2 separate regions of the Homo sapiens genome follow, and region 2 is linked to region 1. Evidence: fine-mapped expression QTL. A gene starts in region 1. The other region holds a variant in brackets. All regions are shown on one strand. Distances are from middle to middle.

Region 1 (8,325 bases):
TTCTTGTTTATACAACAGATAAGTGAGGATAACAGTACAGACCTCATAGGGCTGTGTAAGAGTAGGATAAGGTTTGGCTGTGAATGATAGAAAACCTAGACCATCAGTCACTTCAACAAGAAGGCCATTTATTGTTCTTTCATATAAAAGTCTGGGTAGGTGGCTCATTGCTGATATGATGGATCCAGGTTCACCAGTATACAGACTCTTTCTGTCCTTTTGTTCTGTCTTCCTCAACCTGTAACCTCCAATTCACCATCCAAGATGGCTACAGCTGTGAAATTTTTATTCCAGTCAGCAGGAAAGAAAAAAGAGAAGGAGAAGAAGAAGGACATACTTCTTTCCATAAACCACTTCCACTTACAAGTCATTGGTTATAACTTAATCTTATGAATGTAACCGGCTATAGTGGAGGCTGCTCAAGTGGGAAATGTAATTTTTATTCCAGGCAGTCTTGTGCTTAGCTAAATATGGGGTGCTCTTTACTATCAAAGAGAGGAAAAAAAGGTGTTAGCCCACCCAACTAGCAATCTCAGCCACGGATCATCATGAGATTTAAATGAGACAATGCAGGTAGAGGGTTGAGCACAGTGTTGGGCACTCAGGAAGCACTCAAAAAACATTGTCATCGTCATCATCATCATCATCATCAACATCATCATCACCATCATCATGAGAAGGTGAGGAATACTTTGAAACTGTGACAAGGCATTTTCTTATTTTAACCTGGTCTTGCTGCTAACATCACCCTTGGCCACCTCCCTTTTAAGGTGATTTGAGTTTCATCTTTTATGATACCTTTGAACATGCCTTCATGAAACAAAACTATATAAAAAGGAAAGCAAGGGAAAGGTGAACATAGGACTCAGGATGATGGGGTCTTGGGCCATGAAAATGGAGGGGTTGGGGGAGTGTGTGTGGAGGAATCATCTAGTTAGATGTAAATTATTGTCGAAGTTCTAGTTTTTATTTTGGGTAGTGGATTCACAGGTGCTTACTGCATTATTAAAAATAATTATTAACTAACAATAAAAGTGGAGCTGCATGGATCAATGATCCAATGACGAGAGTGTGTCATGAATCAAGGATTATAATTAATCCATTTCTATGTACCTGAGGTCCTTAAATTGTCTTTGTGTGTACTATATTGCATGGCATATGTGTTTGCATGTTAATAGTAGATAAAAATAGTACTTTCTATTTGCATAGACTTTCAAGTTTTAAAGCGCTTTTACACATCCATAAAAACTGTTTATTAAGTAGTTCATTACAGATGGCTAAGAGCCTGGTGTTACACAAATAGGACTTTGGACTGCTTCCTGTAGGAAAGTTTTTATTTTATCCTTGCACAAGCCCTACAAAGTAGGCAAGGCAGATGTTATTGTCACTATTTTGCAGATGAGAAGGAAGGAACTGAGAGAGCAAGGGGCTCTCATGAGGTTACATAGCGAGTCAGTATCAGAATGGAACTTAAGACTCAGGATCTCTTGGCCAGTGCTTCTGCATTTAGCACATCTTACTCCTCAATTATTCATCCACTAGGCGTTTATTCTGTTACATGGCACATTGTGCTCATGTGTTGTGTTCATATATGTGTGTGTTTTCTGGTGCTGTGTGTGCAGTTCATATAATCTCTATCCACTATGTATGTACCCTCAGAGTCCCTGTGTGCCCCCTAGGCCTATTTGGCTCTTGCAGCTCCGGGAGGACTCTCAGGTGGGAATTCAGTTGTCCTGTTATTCCTAGATCATTGGGCCTCACCATCTCCCTGGAGCTCCAGCTAGGTAGGAAAGCAGCTTTGATATCAGGAATAGATCCGTAGGCCATGAGCACAGAGCAGAGGAGCAAGCCAGCAATGTCTAAATAATGGTGATATTTAATATTTCATGATAATGTATAGTTTATGCTTTAGGATGTGTTCTCATAATTACTATTTCATTTTATTCTCTCTCAGCCCCGAAAGTAGATTTTGTTGTTTTTTTCTTTTCTTTTTCAGATGCTGAGAGATGTTACATGTCTTGCTCAAGGTAACCCAGTTGGAGGACAGTCTTGGCTTCAGCTCATTTGTCTCTAGATCCTGTCATCTTACCACTGTGCCTTGCTGCCTCTGAAAAGGCAGAAGGAAGTTATTCTCTTTCTAGCTTTGTGGAGAAAAGCAGGTGATACCTCAACACCAAGCCATAGGGAGCTTCCAGTGACTCTGCAAAGAAAAAAAAGACCAACTCAGACTCCAGAGCAGCCCCACCAGAGCCTGAGCAGTTGGAGCCTTCCACCTTCCCACCCCTGCGTTCCTCTTGTCCTTGGGCATCTCCTGTGTGTGCTTCGGGGAGGTGATAGCAGTGCTATAGAAGTAGTGGAGTGAAGATGTTTTCCTATCCCCGTGGCCTTAGATAGTGTCTTTGTCTTTGAAGAGTCAGGGGCATCTGGGGAGCTGTCTAACCGTATCTATCCTGTAGACTCGGGAGGAAGCTGCTGGCTGCTGTAGACAGAAGAGAATCCCTGTGCTTCGGGCTCCTAGGAAGGTGTCTGCCATCCTCTCTGTGCCACTGTTATCTGTCTTCTTCCCCATCAGATAACACCATCCACCGCTGCAGGGCTGAGCACGGCACCTTGTACATGGAGCTAAGCAGATGCTGCTTGAGAAGAGCATATGTTTGTGTCGGGGGAAACATGTCTCTCCTTGGTCCACAGAGCCCTACCTGCCCCAGGAAAGGACAGTGTTGGGAGGGTAACTCCCACCCCTCACTCCTCCCCCTCATTCCTGCCTCCACAAGCATCTTCTGGGAAAGGTGAATGAGGGAAGAGACATTTGCACTTGTCCCTTACCTACCTAAGTTCTATCCCCAGTGGCCACTTCTGGGGGTGTTGTCTTCTCTCTGGAGTTTTGGGGGACCTATTAGGGGGCATGTGTGGCCATAGGTCAAGCCTCATTCTCTAACTGGCCTTACCAAGACTTAAGCTGAGGTTTTGTGTTCACCTGTCTGGGTTGCTTGCCATTTCTCAAATGTTCTGCCAGTCAGAGGTGGGAGGAGGTCGGCAGGAATGTACTTGGTCATCTCGAACCCCATCAGAATGTGTGTGGAGGCCTCCTGGCAGCTTCTATGCAGGGTCCAGCTAGATCCCTGGGCTTTTCCTGAGATACACGGGGCTAACCCACTTCTTACGGATTAATTTTTCCACATCGGAAATCAGAAGCCATTCCCCAGGGCCTCCCCTTCAGTTTCATTATCTCCTTTGACTCTGCCCACAACCTTTGAAAAGGTCTCGCTGTTCTTCCCACGGAGAGAGAGGTGCAAGGCTTGCTCAGCCTCACACAGCCAATCCGTGGCAAAGGATGGCGGGAATTCAGGTGGCCCCAATCTCAACCCATCCTCTTCCCACCCTGTATCCTTTTTAGTTTATTTACAGGAAAACATGTTCAAAGGTATAATTACTAAAGTGCTCCTGGTTACACAATAATACGTCTTTACTGAAAAACAATAAATTAATGAGAAAAGAGATGCAAAAAACCTCAGAGGAAAATGTTGAAGTTAGGGAAATATTTAATACGCCCGCCTTTGGCTCACACCTTTTCCTGGGATGAATGACCCCTGTGATTCCAGCTCCCCCCCACCCCCACGAGGTCTCATCTAGCTGGATACCTACAAGCCATCCCTGTCCTTGGAAATACACCCCTCTCCCAATTCGCTGCCGCTAAGAAGCCCAGACAATTGGAGAGGAGTGGATTTTCCATCTGAATTATGCAGCTCCTTTGACACGCCTCCCCTCTCCCTTTGCATAGCCTTGGTTAAGAACTAGCATTTCTTCGTCCCCTCTCCCTGTCCCCTCTCACTGTCCGCGAGGCAGCAGCCCCCAGCCTACTCCGCGATCCTCCCAGCTCCCGGCACCGCGCGTCCTCCCCTTTAAGGCCCGCCCCTCCCCCCACGCCACGCCTCCCCAGGCCCCGCCCCCCGCCCCTCCCCTTTAAGGACCGGCCCCGGACGCAGACGAGGCTGTGACGCGGCCGCCGGCCCGGGGCTGGGTACATTGTCGCGCGGCCGCTTCCCCCCGGCCGGGCCCCCGCCGCCCCGCGGTCCCCAGAGCGCCAGGCCCCCGGGGGGAGGGAGGGAGGGCGCCGGGCCGGTGGGAGCCAGCGGCGCGCGGTGGGACCCACGGAGCCCCGCGACCCGCCGAGCCTGGAGCCGGGCCGGGTCGGGGAAGCCGGCTCCAGCCCGGAGCGAACTTCGCAGCCCGTCGGGGGGCGGCGGGGAGGGGGCCCGGAGCCGGAGGAGGGGGCGGCCGCGGGCACCCCCGCCTGTGCCCCGGCGTCCCCGGGCACCATGCTGTCCAACTCCCAGGGCCAGAGCCCGCCGGTGCCGTTCCCCGCCCCGGCCCCGCCGCCGCAGCCCCCCACCCCTGCCCTGCCGCACCCCCCGGCGCAGCCGCCGCCGCCGCCCCCGCAGCAGTTCCCGCAGTTCCACGTCAAGTCCGGCCTGCAGATCAAGAAGAACGCCATCATCGATGACTACAAGGTCACCAGCCAGGTCCTGGGGCTGGGCATCAACGGCAAAGTTTTGCAGATCTTCAACAAGAGGACCCAGGAGAAATTCGCCCTCAAAGTAGGTCTGGGGCCCGGGGAGGGGAGGCGGGGCCGGTCCCGGGCCCTGGAGCTCCACGGCGTCGGGTGCCCGTCCCGGCCTGGGTCGCGGCGCGGGGCGGAGGGGTGGCCGCGGCGGGGCGGGGCGGGGCGGCCGGGCCGGCGGTGCCGAGTGCGGCGCGGGCGGCGGGTCCCAGCGCCCTCGCCTCCCTGACCGCTTCCGGCCGCTCCCGGGCGGGAGCCCTGGGACCCGCTCCTGGGGACTCAGGGGACCCTGCCATTTTGGGGTTTGAGCGGGATCCAGCCGAGTCAGAACGGTTGGCTTCGGGACTTCTGCTAATTTCACTCCATCTCAAGGAAGTGATTTTGGGGTTGGTGGTTCCCCGTCCTCTCCTCCCTCCTTTTTCTCTCTCTGCGGGCACAAAAGGCCCATTACTCATTGAGCCGGTTGGTCGGTTGGTTTGGAGAAGTCGGATCGCAGAGGTTTATTTAGCCTCGCTCCTTATTTGGGAGCCGGAATGTGTGATTTCACTTCCCCGAGCCTCGCGAGGGCAGCCGGGCCGCCTTGGGGCGCGCCGGGCAGGAGGTGTGCGGCGGGAGGGTCCTGGGTGTCCCCCGGCTGCGGGGGCGGGATTATTTGGATCCCGGAGCTGGCCCCCTCAGCTGGCCCCCTCCCACGCCCGCGCGGGGCGGCTCCGGGGAGAGGCCGGCGGTGTCCGCGGCCCGGCTGATCATTGTGAACAGAGTCTGTAACCCGCGGCCGGGCCCGTGCTGATTCCGCCTCCTAGAGAGGGCCACTTGCTGTCCTGGACTCGCGCCGTGATGGGCAGTCTGAGGAAACATTATCCTTGAGCCGGGGGAGCCCATCCCTTTTCTTTCTTTAAGGGGTGTGGTGGTGGGGAGAATAAGGATTCAAGTGAGAATATCGACTTCAGAAGTTAAACACAATGGACTGGGAGGTCTCATGAGATGGGTGGGTCCGCAGTGAAGTGTGAGCCGGTCTTGCAGGGTCACCAACAAGGTTTTCCTCTCACAGGGGTTTCAGGTCAAACCAATCTCTAAAGGTGACGCCTCAGGTCTGTTTCCCCTGGGGTGTCTCAATGATTGGAGGAGGAGAAAAATACTTCCTGTGTTATATTTTTCTCTTCCCCTTCAGCCCCCACAGCGAGCTGTATTTCAGTTGTCAAGTACAAAACTCAGAAATGTGGTATGGGTGGAACTATTGGAATATACGATCAGATGTTTTAAAAGAAACACCAGTACTTCGGGGTTGTACGGGGCAAGCATGTTCCATTTCTAGATTTTAAGGCCTCTAGAATTGTTTTCCTGCTGCTCTCATACTCAACCCTGTTACAGTGCTTTGCTTTCTACTGTAAGTTATTGCTCTGGGATCTCGGTTGTTGTTTAGTGTTGACTGTTGGAGAGGGGATAAGTATCTTCAACACTTCAACATTTGTGTCTTAGACTTCTCTTTCCCTACTCATAACTGAAGGGAAAGGAGGAGGAGGAGTTGTTTGGATTGAGCATGGCTCTGACCTTGGGGACTGGAGTTGGGTGAATACAGTTTGACCACAGTTAACCTGTATCATTGAGGAAGTGACAGACGGTCTTTACAGGAGTGTTTGCTGTCCCCTCTGAGACACCATCTGCCTTCACCCATTAGTAGTTTGGGGACACTGGCTGTTCATTCTCTTGGATATTTGGAATATTATGTAAAGACTTCAGAACAAAAGCTCCCAACTTCTGCTCTGTATTCTGTTTAATAGACACACGCACAAAATCATCCTATAAAATGCTTTTGAGTGGCAATTCAGATTTCTCTTGTAACTAACGAGAGAGAGGTTTACATATTTTTCTACTTTGAATAGTTTTGGAAGGAAAAATCCAGCAGCGTGTTAAATAACACTCATAGTTTATCCCTCTCAGGTTAGAAGTGGGCGAAGAGTGAAGTCAGTCTGTTTTGACAGGCAGCCTGCTCCCAGATCTTTTAAGTTGACTCAACTGTTAAATTGTGGATTTCCCACACACGTCTTTGTGTTAAAACTTAATAATGGAGGAAGAAAGGAGAGACAAGGCATTTGGAGACTGACAGCAGTGTTAACAGCACTTCCATATCCAAATATTGGCTGAGACATAATTACAGCTGTGGGGGGAATCTGGTTCAAAGAACGCTGTTCCAGAGACACACACCAAAGAGATTTCTAGATCTTGAATTTTGATTAACCTCAGGTGCTGAGTAGTGAAATGGTTTTCAAAACCAGAAGTCTAGTGATTATAAAGCAGGAGAGGAAGATGGAGTGGGGCAAGAGGGATTACCCCCTTGGGAAGGTGCCTGAGAAAAGGGGAGGAGACCTCTATTCTACAGTGTGCCGAGGCCAATGCTGGGGGCTAGGGCAGAGCTGGAGGGCAGGAGCCCAGCCTCTGCTGGGGTTCAGAAGTCTGCTATGTTGCAGCCCTGAGAGTTGATGGGAGCTGGCAGCTGCTTAGATGCTCTCCTCTCTGCCTATAGTCGGTGACCTCTTAGCCCTGTTAAGTGAAATCAGCATTTGAAAAAGAGTCCCAGCTCACCCTGCTGCTTCTCTCCCTCCACCTCAGAGAGCTCCCATTTAAATGCTTTTGGTGGGTGCTTTGACCTCACCTCACCATCTCTCCTGGCTGCTTTTGCTAAGTTCTGAGTCATGCTTCCAGTCAGAGTTGCAAGGGACTTGAAAGGTCATTTTGTCCAGCCCCCTTATTTTGCAGAAGAGAAAACCAAGGCCCAGAGTGAGGGAGTGACTTGTTCAAGGTACCATAGCCATTCACTTGGCAGAGGCAGGATTGGAACCCAGGTTGCCTGACTCCCAGTCTCAGGCTTCTTCCCACTTACTTCCTAACTGAGCCACGGGCTCAGGCACATGGCCACCTGCTGCTCCAGGGTGCTTCCAGCCTGAGGAGCTGTTCTGTCACCTCAGGCCCTGACTGACAAGAGGGGAGGTCAGCGAAGGGGGCTGGATGGGTATTTGCTGCTCCTGAGAACAGTCCCCAAAGTTGGAGGGGAACTTCAACAGTAGCTTCATGCATTTTTTTAACCACTCCCTCCCCCTTTTAAGAGAGTATTTGATAGGCACCTTACTTACTATTTTTTGTACAAGAACATGGGAATTCTATTATTTTTATTTTTATTTTTTTTGAGACAGAGTGTTGCTCTGTCGCCCAGGTTAGAGTGCAGTAGCACGATCTTGGCTCACTGCAAGCTCTGCTTCCCAGGTCCACGCCATTCTGCCTCAGCCTCCTGAGTAGCTGGGACTACAGGCGCCCGTCACCATGCCCGGCTAATTTTTTGTATTTTTAGTAGAGATGGGGTTTCACTGTGTTATTCAGGATGGTCTTGATCTCCTGACCTCGTGATCTGCCTGCCTCAGCCTGCCTAAGTGCTGGGATTACAGGTGTGAGCTACCGCGCCCGGCCTGTATTACTTCTTTGATAAGGACACCTAGTCTCAACCCACTTGTGTATTAATTAGTTGTATTCCCCGGGAGGGTTCCTCAGCTGCTTGCCGCTTCACTGTGTCATGGTGACCCTTAGGTGTTAGCTCAACAAATTTAATTAAAGACTGTATCGTTGTTCTCTGCTGTGCAACTCTGATTAGGTGAAGCATGTTACTGCTTTATAAAATATAGAATGTTGTCGTAACTTATCTCTGTGTATCTTTCCATTGCGTGGATTAGAGAAAACAAGGTCCTGTAGTTTCTTTTCCTTTCCTTTCTCCA
Region 2 (8,325 bases), 39 kb after region 1:
TGCTTTTGTGGCAGCATCTTATTTCTTTCCTTTGCAGCACAAATCACAGTGTATAATTAAAACTATTTTCTTTGAGCTTGTTTTTGGTGTACCTCCTGCACTAAAATGTTAAGTTCTGTGGCGGTCACGGGGCTTATTTGTCATGTTCTCTATTATACCCTTGGCATCCTCTAAACCAGTGTGTGGCACATGCTAGGCACTCCGGGGTTTCACTGAGTGATCCATTCTGTTAGGATGGGATCAAGTGCTCATGTGTCTCCTCCTGTGTCCCTCTCTGGCTCCAGATCTTCCACCTGGCAGAGTTTCCGGAAGCCCCAGAGATATGCTCCATGGCCATAGGGCCTGAGACGTGGATGGCTGCCCTCTGACTAAAATTTAGAGAGCTAAGCTTGTCTCTTTAAAAAGTAACATATACTAATTGTAAATCACCTAGAAAATACAGACATAATAAAGGAAATTAAATCTGTGATTCTGTCTTTCAGAGATCATTACCATTAACAACTCATTGAGTCTTAATGCCTTTATTGTTTTTGTTTTGTTTTGTTTTGTTTTGTTTTTGAGACAGAGTCTCACTCTGTTGCCCAGGCTGGAGTGCAGGCTCACTACAACCTCCGCTTCCTGGGTTCAAGTGATTTTCCCACCTCAGCCTCCCAAGTAGCTGGGATTGCTTACAGGTGCGTGCCACCATGCCTGGCTAATTTTTTTGTATTTTTTGATAGAGACAGGCTTTCAGCATGTTGGCCAGGCTGGTCATGAACTTCTGACTTCAAGTAATCTGCCCCCCTTGGCCTCCCAAAGTGCTGGGGTTATAGATGTGAGCCACTATGGCCAGCCCCTATGCCTTTATTTTTTTTATATACAGATCCAATAAATATCCATAGAGCACTGAGTTTATGCTGTACATAAGGGTTTGTAACTTTCAGTTACCATCAGACATGTTTTGATAATGAAATTTAAAGAAAGTACACATTGGGATTTGGGATGCAGAAGAAAAAATAGGATAGTATTCTAGACAATGACAGTGATGATACCTGAGAATCTAGTAGACACTCAGGAATCCACATTTCCCCATTTAATATTCATCTGAAACACCATTTCAGTGGCTGTAGATTGTGTAGCTAAACTCACTTTTACATAAAACAACCTCTGTTACTTATCTCTGGGCCTTAAGTTTGTGATATAGTTTGGATGTTTGTTTCTCCCAAATCTCATGTTGAAGTGTAATCCCCAGTGTGGGAGGTGGGGCCTGGTGGGAGGTGTTTGGGCCATGGGGGTAGGTCCCTCGTGAATGGCTTGGTGCTGTTCTTAAGATAGTGAGTTCTTAGGAGATCTGGTTGTTTAAAAGTGGGTGGCACCCCACCCCTGTTGCTCCTGCTCTTGCCATGTGACATCCCTGCTCCCCCTTCACCTTCCACCATGATTGTAAGCTTCCTGAGGCCTCACCAAAAGCAGATACTAGTGCCAAGCTTGTACCAGCTGCAGAACTATAAGCCAGTTATATCTTTTCTTTACAGATTACCCAGTCTCAGGTATTTCTTAATAGCAATGCAAAGTAGACTAATAAGTTTGTTAGCTATTTCTAGTAAAGGTAAATAACTCTTGAGATGTATATTTTCTTAAAGATACGTCTATGATTAATACCTGAGGATGAAATTCTAAAAGTAGAATTTTAACATCAAAGGGTTTGCACTTTAAGGCATTTTCAGCCTCCATTTCTGGCTGTTGCTGTTGTGGACAGTCTTGGGCAGATTTTGAACTCTTTGCCTTACTGTGGGGTGGTGGAAAGGAGGCTTTAGGAGCAGCCAGAGCAGGGTTCAAACTCCAGCCCTGCCAGGGACAACTGGCCAAAAGGTCGTGAACTAATGACTCAGTGAGTTTTCTCATTTATAAAATAGGATGTTTCCTCCCAGGGTGGGGGTGAAGTGGGTGAGATGACCCATTTGAAGCACAGTGGACCCTTGAACAATGCAAAGGTTGGGCAGTCAATTCACATAAAACTTTTGATCTGAGTTGGGCAGATCACCTGAGATTAGGAGTTTGAGACCAGCGTGACCAACATGGAGAAACCCTGTCTCTACTAAAAATACAAAATTAGCCGGGCATGGTGGCACACGCCTGTAATCCCAGCTACTCGGGAGGCAGAGGCAGGAGAATCACTTGAACCCGGGAGGTGGAGGTTGCGGTGAGCCGAGATCGCACCATTGCACTCCAGCCTGGGTAATGAGAGTGAAACTCTATTTCAAAAAAAAAAAAAGGCCAGGCACGGTGGCTCATGCCTGTAATCCCAGCACTTTGGGAGGCCGAGGCGGGCGGATCACGAGGTCAGGAGATCGAGACCATCCTGGCTAACACGGTGAAACCCCGTCCCTACTAAAAATAGAAAAAATTAGCCAGGCGTGGTGGTGGGCACCTATGGTCCCAGCTACTCGGGAAGCTGAGGCAGGAGAATGGCGTGAACCCGGGAAGCGGAGCTTGCAGTGAGCGGAGATCGTGCCACTGCACTCCAGCCTGGGCAACAGGGCGAGACTCTGTCTCAAAAACAAAAACAAAAACAAAAAAAAACAAAGAAACAAAAGAAAACTTTTGATTCCCCTAGAACTACTATTAAATAATAGCCTACTGTTGACCCGAAGCCTTACTGATTACATAGTTGATTAACACATATTTTGTCTGTTGCGTGTATTATATCTTTATTCTTGAATAAAATAAGCTAAAGAAAATAAGCATCGTTAAGAAAATCACTTTGAGTAGGCTGAGGAAGAGGAGGAGGAAGAGGAAGGGTTGGTCTTGCTGCTGCAGGGCTGGCAGAAGTGGAAGAAAATCCCTGTATAAATGGATCCACGCAGTTCAAACCTGGGTTGTTCAAGGGCCAACAGTACTTAGCAGCCATTTAGCACAGAGCACTGCCAGCCCCCCTCGGCCTGCAGCCTGCTCCAGCACCTTGCTAAGAGGTTGCTGAGGCTCACCTGCAGCAGCTGCCCTCCCGAGTCCTCTTTCCTTTACACCCCTCAGAGCACCCGGGCCAGCCATCCTCCATGTGGTGCAGCAGAGGCGCCGGTGGTCCGGGAACCAGAGTGGGTGGCCCTGGCCTGGAGGCACGGTGGGTTAGTGTGTGACACACGTGGCTTTCCCCCGACCCCCAGCTGCCTCCTGGGAGTGAAGAGGAGGTCTTATTTGCCAACACATACCGCACCACACACCCACAACACACTTGGTGCCAGAATCAGCCTTTTGCATCGCTCTTGGCGCTGAATCAGAGTCTGTCTTGGGGAGGGATGTCTTCCTTCTCTCATTACATGCGCCCAGCTTAGGTGGTGTAGTGAGGGAGTGTACAGGGCTGGGATGCCACAGCCTGCTTTCCTCCCCGTGTCCTGGGGTCCCCCGTCTGTCCAGTGCCCAGAGCTATTAATAACACCTTCATTGAAATGGGTGTAATGGAATCCCAGTTGCCCCCCCCAGTGGGACTCCAACACATGGGGAGTGGGGAGCAGAATAATAATAGCAAACACGGATGCAGTACTTATTACGTGCCAAGCGTTATTCTTAGTTATTTACATCATGCACATCTATTAACTCATCTTGTATAGCAAGCCCATGAGGTGGGGACTATTACTGTCCTATTAATGGGTAAGGGAACCAAGGCACAAAGGGGTTGGAAACTTTTCCCAGTTCACATAGCTAGTGAGCAGTGGCGCTTGTGAAGGGGGTCCTCCTGAGGGCCTGGGGCCTGCTCCTTCCCAGTCTTGTCTTCATGTCCACCTTGCTGACGAGTGGCACATCAGGCCCTGGGTGCCGGCTGCTTTCCTGTCCTCTGGCTCAGCCAGGCTTCTAATGCTGACCACTCCTGAGTCTTTCCACGTGGCTCCACAATGGCAGACTTGCAGGAGGAGATGAGGGGAACCATGCATACCTTGAATAGGGGGAGGGGTCCTGTCCTTCTTCCCCTCAGGTGCTGGAAGAGACAGAGAGGCATGGGACTGTATTTAGGCAGCTCCCGCAGCTCCCTCACTGCCGCTGTCCTAGAGCTTCCTTCCCAGGCAATGCGCTCTGTGGCTTGGGCCCCTGCCCCTGCCACAGTTGGCAGGGGGCCTTGCCTGTGGCGTTGCAGCTGAGCACACGCAATCATTAACCTTTTCTACGTGTAAGAGAATTTCAGGCACAAACTGTGGGGCTGAGGTGAGTCACAATGTTGGACCGGGGCTTAGTTTGGGCTTAAAATATTTCACAATTCCTCCAGGCATTCTTTGACTAATGATCTATGGCTTTTTAGTGGGAAGACCCTTCCTTCTTCTAGTCTCCAGTCCTCAGAGCATGGTTCAGGGCCTGTTGGCCTTCACTGCCCATGGCCATGCCCATGCCCAAGGAGCAGGGGCCTTGGCTTCTGGGTGGACCTGCCGCCTCGCTCTGCTGGTGGCCTCTGGCAGTGCCCTAGGAGTCCTGCTTTCCTTCCCTGTCTCTTCTTTGGCTTGGAGTGCAGGCCACCTCCCCTGCTGTTCTTTACTTAGCCCTGTACTCCAGATTAGCACATTCTTGGTTTCCTCTCTCCAGGCCTTCTGCGCTCCACACTTGTCCACAGAGCCACTTTGGCACTTCAGGGCTGTGCCCCCAGGACGTCAGCCAGCCTGCCTCGCCCATCTGAAGGGCTTTCATTGCTTGGGTTGATTTTCTTATCCAGTCAGGGATTTCTGATAAACATGTGCCTGGATGGATGTCAATGACCAGTCCTTTTTTTTTTTTTTTTTGTTAAATTTAATTTAAGTTCTGGAATACAAATGCAGGATGTGCAATGACCAGTCTTCATGGGAAATTCTTGCTAAGTTTCTCTAAGAAATTTAAAATACTACCTTTTCCAATTTATTTCAGGATGGAAAGGACAGCTCACCCTCAGTCACTGGGGGAGAGAGTTTAGTAGGGAGAAGAAGCAACAGAATGAGGGGGTGTTAGCTCAGAAGTTCCTAACCACTAGGTGAGGGAAGGAAGAGGGGAGGGAGTAAACAGAAATCAAATTAGATCTTGCCCATTAGAAACTCAGTTAGGTTGGGCAGATAAGGCATAAATATGCAAAATGGTAAATTTTTTCAAAGTGGAAACTACCCTATATAGAGTTTCTGAAGCACCTTCAAGGATATTATTTCACGAAGTTGAATCTAATTTTACAGATGAGGAAACCCTTTCCAGAAAGATAGGTGGGCTTGC[A/G]TGACACAAGCTAGGAAGTGCAGAACTGGGATTCAAAATGCATGCGATTGCAAAGCCTAGGTTCACTGTGCTACATCCGTCTCCTCTAATGGGTAGAGAGTTTGTGCAAGTCTGGAAGTGTGATGTGAACCTAGCCCTTCTTGCACAAACTCTCCTTTGCCTTGTGCCACGCACTCCTAACGTGTTCAGGGCAGAAAGTGCGGAAGTTGCAGTGAGCGCTTGGAATTCAGGGGGTGCTAAGGAGCATGCATTTAGATTTGGATCTTGGTGCATCCTCACTTAGCACAGCTCTGGTTGGCAGATGTCCTGGTGGTCGTCACTGGGCTGAAGACAGAAACCCAGCCTACAATCTTGGTGATAACTTGTGCTGGTTACATCCACATGCTCCAAGCTCAACTCAGTGGTGACGGAGGAACCCCCCTGTACTGTGGCATTAATGGTACTGGTTGACAGTGATGAATGCCTTTCTGATAATAAAGCACTTTTAGAGGTATTATTTCATTAGATGCTCATAATGTTTCTATGAGGGGGAGGCTAGGCAGGTATCATCGCTCCTAAATGCATGTGGCACAGGCTCTGAAAGGTAGACCTCTCTGTGAGGCTGTGCAAGAAGAAATTGACAAATTTCAGACTGGGCCAAGTCTTCCCTGATTGTAACTCTACAACCAGGCATTGCTTCTGAGTAAATCTGACAACTTTGATTCTTCTCCTCTGGGCTCCAGTTCCTGTGTGCCTGTAGGGGGCGATCGAGGTTCTTTCTGCTTGGCTGCTCTGGAAACCTTGTTCCTCCTGAACCCTTTGAATTTAGCACTCTTACAGCATGTAATCTCACTGGATTTTAAGGATTTTCTGTGTCTCCCCTCATATCTTCTTCTGCCCCCCACTAGCCTAGGCTTTTCCAGATCAGGACTGCTCTATTTGGTTTTGACATTCAGTGCAATGCATGGCCCATAGTAGGAGCTCAGTAAATGCTTGCTGGATTGAATTATATACAAAGGAAATTGGCCAGTGCCTTCTCTTGCTCCCCTTAGAGCATGGGAAAGTAAACTTTTTTCCTGGTACATCCAAATGAATGAAGTTGAAGGCTGGGCATGGTGGCTCACACCTGTAATCCCAGCACATTGGGAGGCCAAGGTGGGGTATCACTTGAGACCAGGAGTTCGAGACCAGCCTGGCCAACATGGCGAAACCCGGTCTCTACTAAAAATACCAAAAAATTAGCCAGACGTGGTGGCTCACACCTGTAATCCCAGCTACTCAGGAGGCTGAAGTGGGAGAATTGTTTGAACCCGGGAGGCGGAGGTTACAGTGAGCCAAGATTGTGCCACTGCACTCCAGCCTGGGCAACAGAGCGAGACCCTGTCTCAGAAACAAACAAACCCTAATGAAGTTGAAAGTGGCAGAACTCAAGACCCATGAGGTGTCCTCATATGGCCACAAGGTGGCAGTGTGACCTCCTGGGAACCTTGCCTCCTGCAACTATTGGCTCCGGCCACCTGTTACTCCATGGGAGAGACCGAGTTATCTAGTCATTGATTCCTTCTAGTCACCTGTTTGGGGAATTGCCTCTGCAAAGTCAGTCTGAGAAATCTTGGCTTCCAGCCTCCTCTAAAAGCTGGGTGGTGTGGTGGAAAGACTTGGTCTTTGGAGTCTACCAGGCCTGGATTCCAACCTTGGCTCTGCCTTTTCTCAGAAACTTAGCCTTGGGCATGCTACTTCTCTGAGCCTCAGCTTCCCCATCCTGTAAAATGGCAAATGTACAGTTAGGAAAAACCCAACATATCATGGGCCATAGCATAAATGTATGCCAGCATTCTTGTTGGAAATGCTCATTTGTCCTTCCCTTCCCTCTGCAAGCTGGCTCCATCATGGCCATCTGATCTTATTTGCAAGCTTCAGACACTTTCCAGCAGGTTCTTAGGCCTCCCTGCTGTATCACCCCAGCTCCACTCCATCTCGGTCAGTCAGCACCTGCTTCCCACGTTTCCCTCTGCCTTCATGCCTTCCCTCTGCCTGTCCATTTCCTTCCCAGCATGTCTCTTGGACACCCCAGCCCTCTGAATGTCCAAAGCAGTTGGAGTGTGGACTGTGTAGGGCTCATCTTGACTTCCCATGAAGATGCTAAATCTGTGAGTGTCCTTGTCTTAATTATTTTGGCACCTGCGCTTGCACTTAGACAATTGGTGATAAAAATGACAGCTATTAGTGAGTGCATGTCAGATACTCTGTGAGGTGCTTTGTGGAAATATTTCATTTAATCCTCACAACAAATCTGTGAAACAGAAGCCATTATCCATCCCCACTTTACAAAGGAAGGGTAGATCAGGATGCTTTTGGCTCCAAGCAATAGACAATTTCATGAAAAGCAGCTTAAACAGTAAGAAGAGTTTATTATCTTGTCAAAAAGAAGTACTGAGGGATCCCTGGTGATGGCAGCGAGGATCCAGGTGATTGCCATTTCTCCTGGTTGCCTTCCTCAGTGCATTGGTTTATCCTCTTAGGCCCCCCTTACTGGTAATAATGTGACTGTCATGGTCCCAGGTGCCATATGCAGGAGAGATGATGTACATTTCTTGTGCTCCCTTTAAGAAGCCTCTTAGCAGATTTCTTTTTTTTTTGAGATGGAGTCTCGCTCTGTTGCCCAGGCTGGAGTGCAGTGGCGTGATCTCGGCTCGCTGCAAGCTCCACCTCTCAGGGTTCACGCCATTCTCCTGCCTCAGCCTCCTGAGTAGCTGGGGCTACAGTCGCCTGCCACCATGCCTGGCTAATTTTTTTTGTATTGTTAGTAGGGACGGGGTTTCACCGTGTTAGCCAGGATGGTCTTGATCTCCTGACCTCGTGATCTGCCTGCCTCGGCCTCCCAAAGTGCTGGGATTACAGGCACGAGCCACCGTGCCCGGCAGCAGATTTCTTACAAGGCTCTTGGCCAGTTGAGTTGTAGGCTTGTTCCCAAGCCAGTCACTAGCAAAGGGACTGGAATTAATGAGACTGGCTTAGACAGGTCAAGATTGAACCCCTGAGGCTGGTGAGAAGCCAGCCTCCTTTAATACCCCTAGCCAATTGGTCCAGGGAGAAGAAGGGGCATCAGTGAGGTTCGACGAGTTAAGTAACTTGCTCAAGCTTGGAAAT

What was found.
Region 2: its variant is fine-mapped to the expression of MAPKAPK2 in whole blood (TOPMed, PIP above 0.99).

Annotation. Positions count from the first base shown.
Region 1 is chr1:206,680,911-206,689,235 of GRCh38, forward strand. MAPKAPK2 (MAPK activated protein kinase 2) reads left to right here and starts at 3,995. Exons shown (of 10, transcript NM_032960.4): 1 at 3,995-4,598. The coding sequence starts at 4,320. It overlaps LOC124904496 (a long non-coding RNA gene), which reads left to right. Exons shown (of 3, transcript XR_007066834.1): 2 at 265-680; 3 at 1,997-2,078. LOC124904495 (a long non-coding RNA gene) reads right to left here and starts at 3,896. Exons shown (of 3, transcript XR_007066833.1): 1 at 2,831-3,896; 2 at 2,441-2,633; 3 at 1,230-2,200. RefSeq lists silencers at 3,971-4,150, 4,611-4,660, 4,671-4,760, 5,171-5,260 and enhancers at 6,600-7,161, 7,162-7,723.
Region 2 is chr1:206,719,825-206,728,149 of GRCh38, forward strand. All of the region lies in intron 1 of MAPKAPK2 (MAPK activated protein kinase 2), which reads left to right. Among named protein-coding and RNA genes, the nearest start is that of MAPKAPK2, 39 kb to the left of the region's middle. RefSeq lists an enhancer at 2,604-3,317. The variant A/G (reference allele first, on the strand shown) is at 5,197.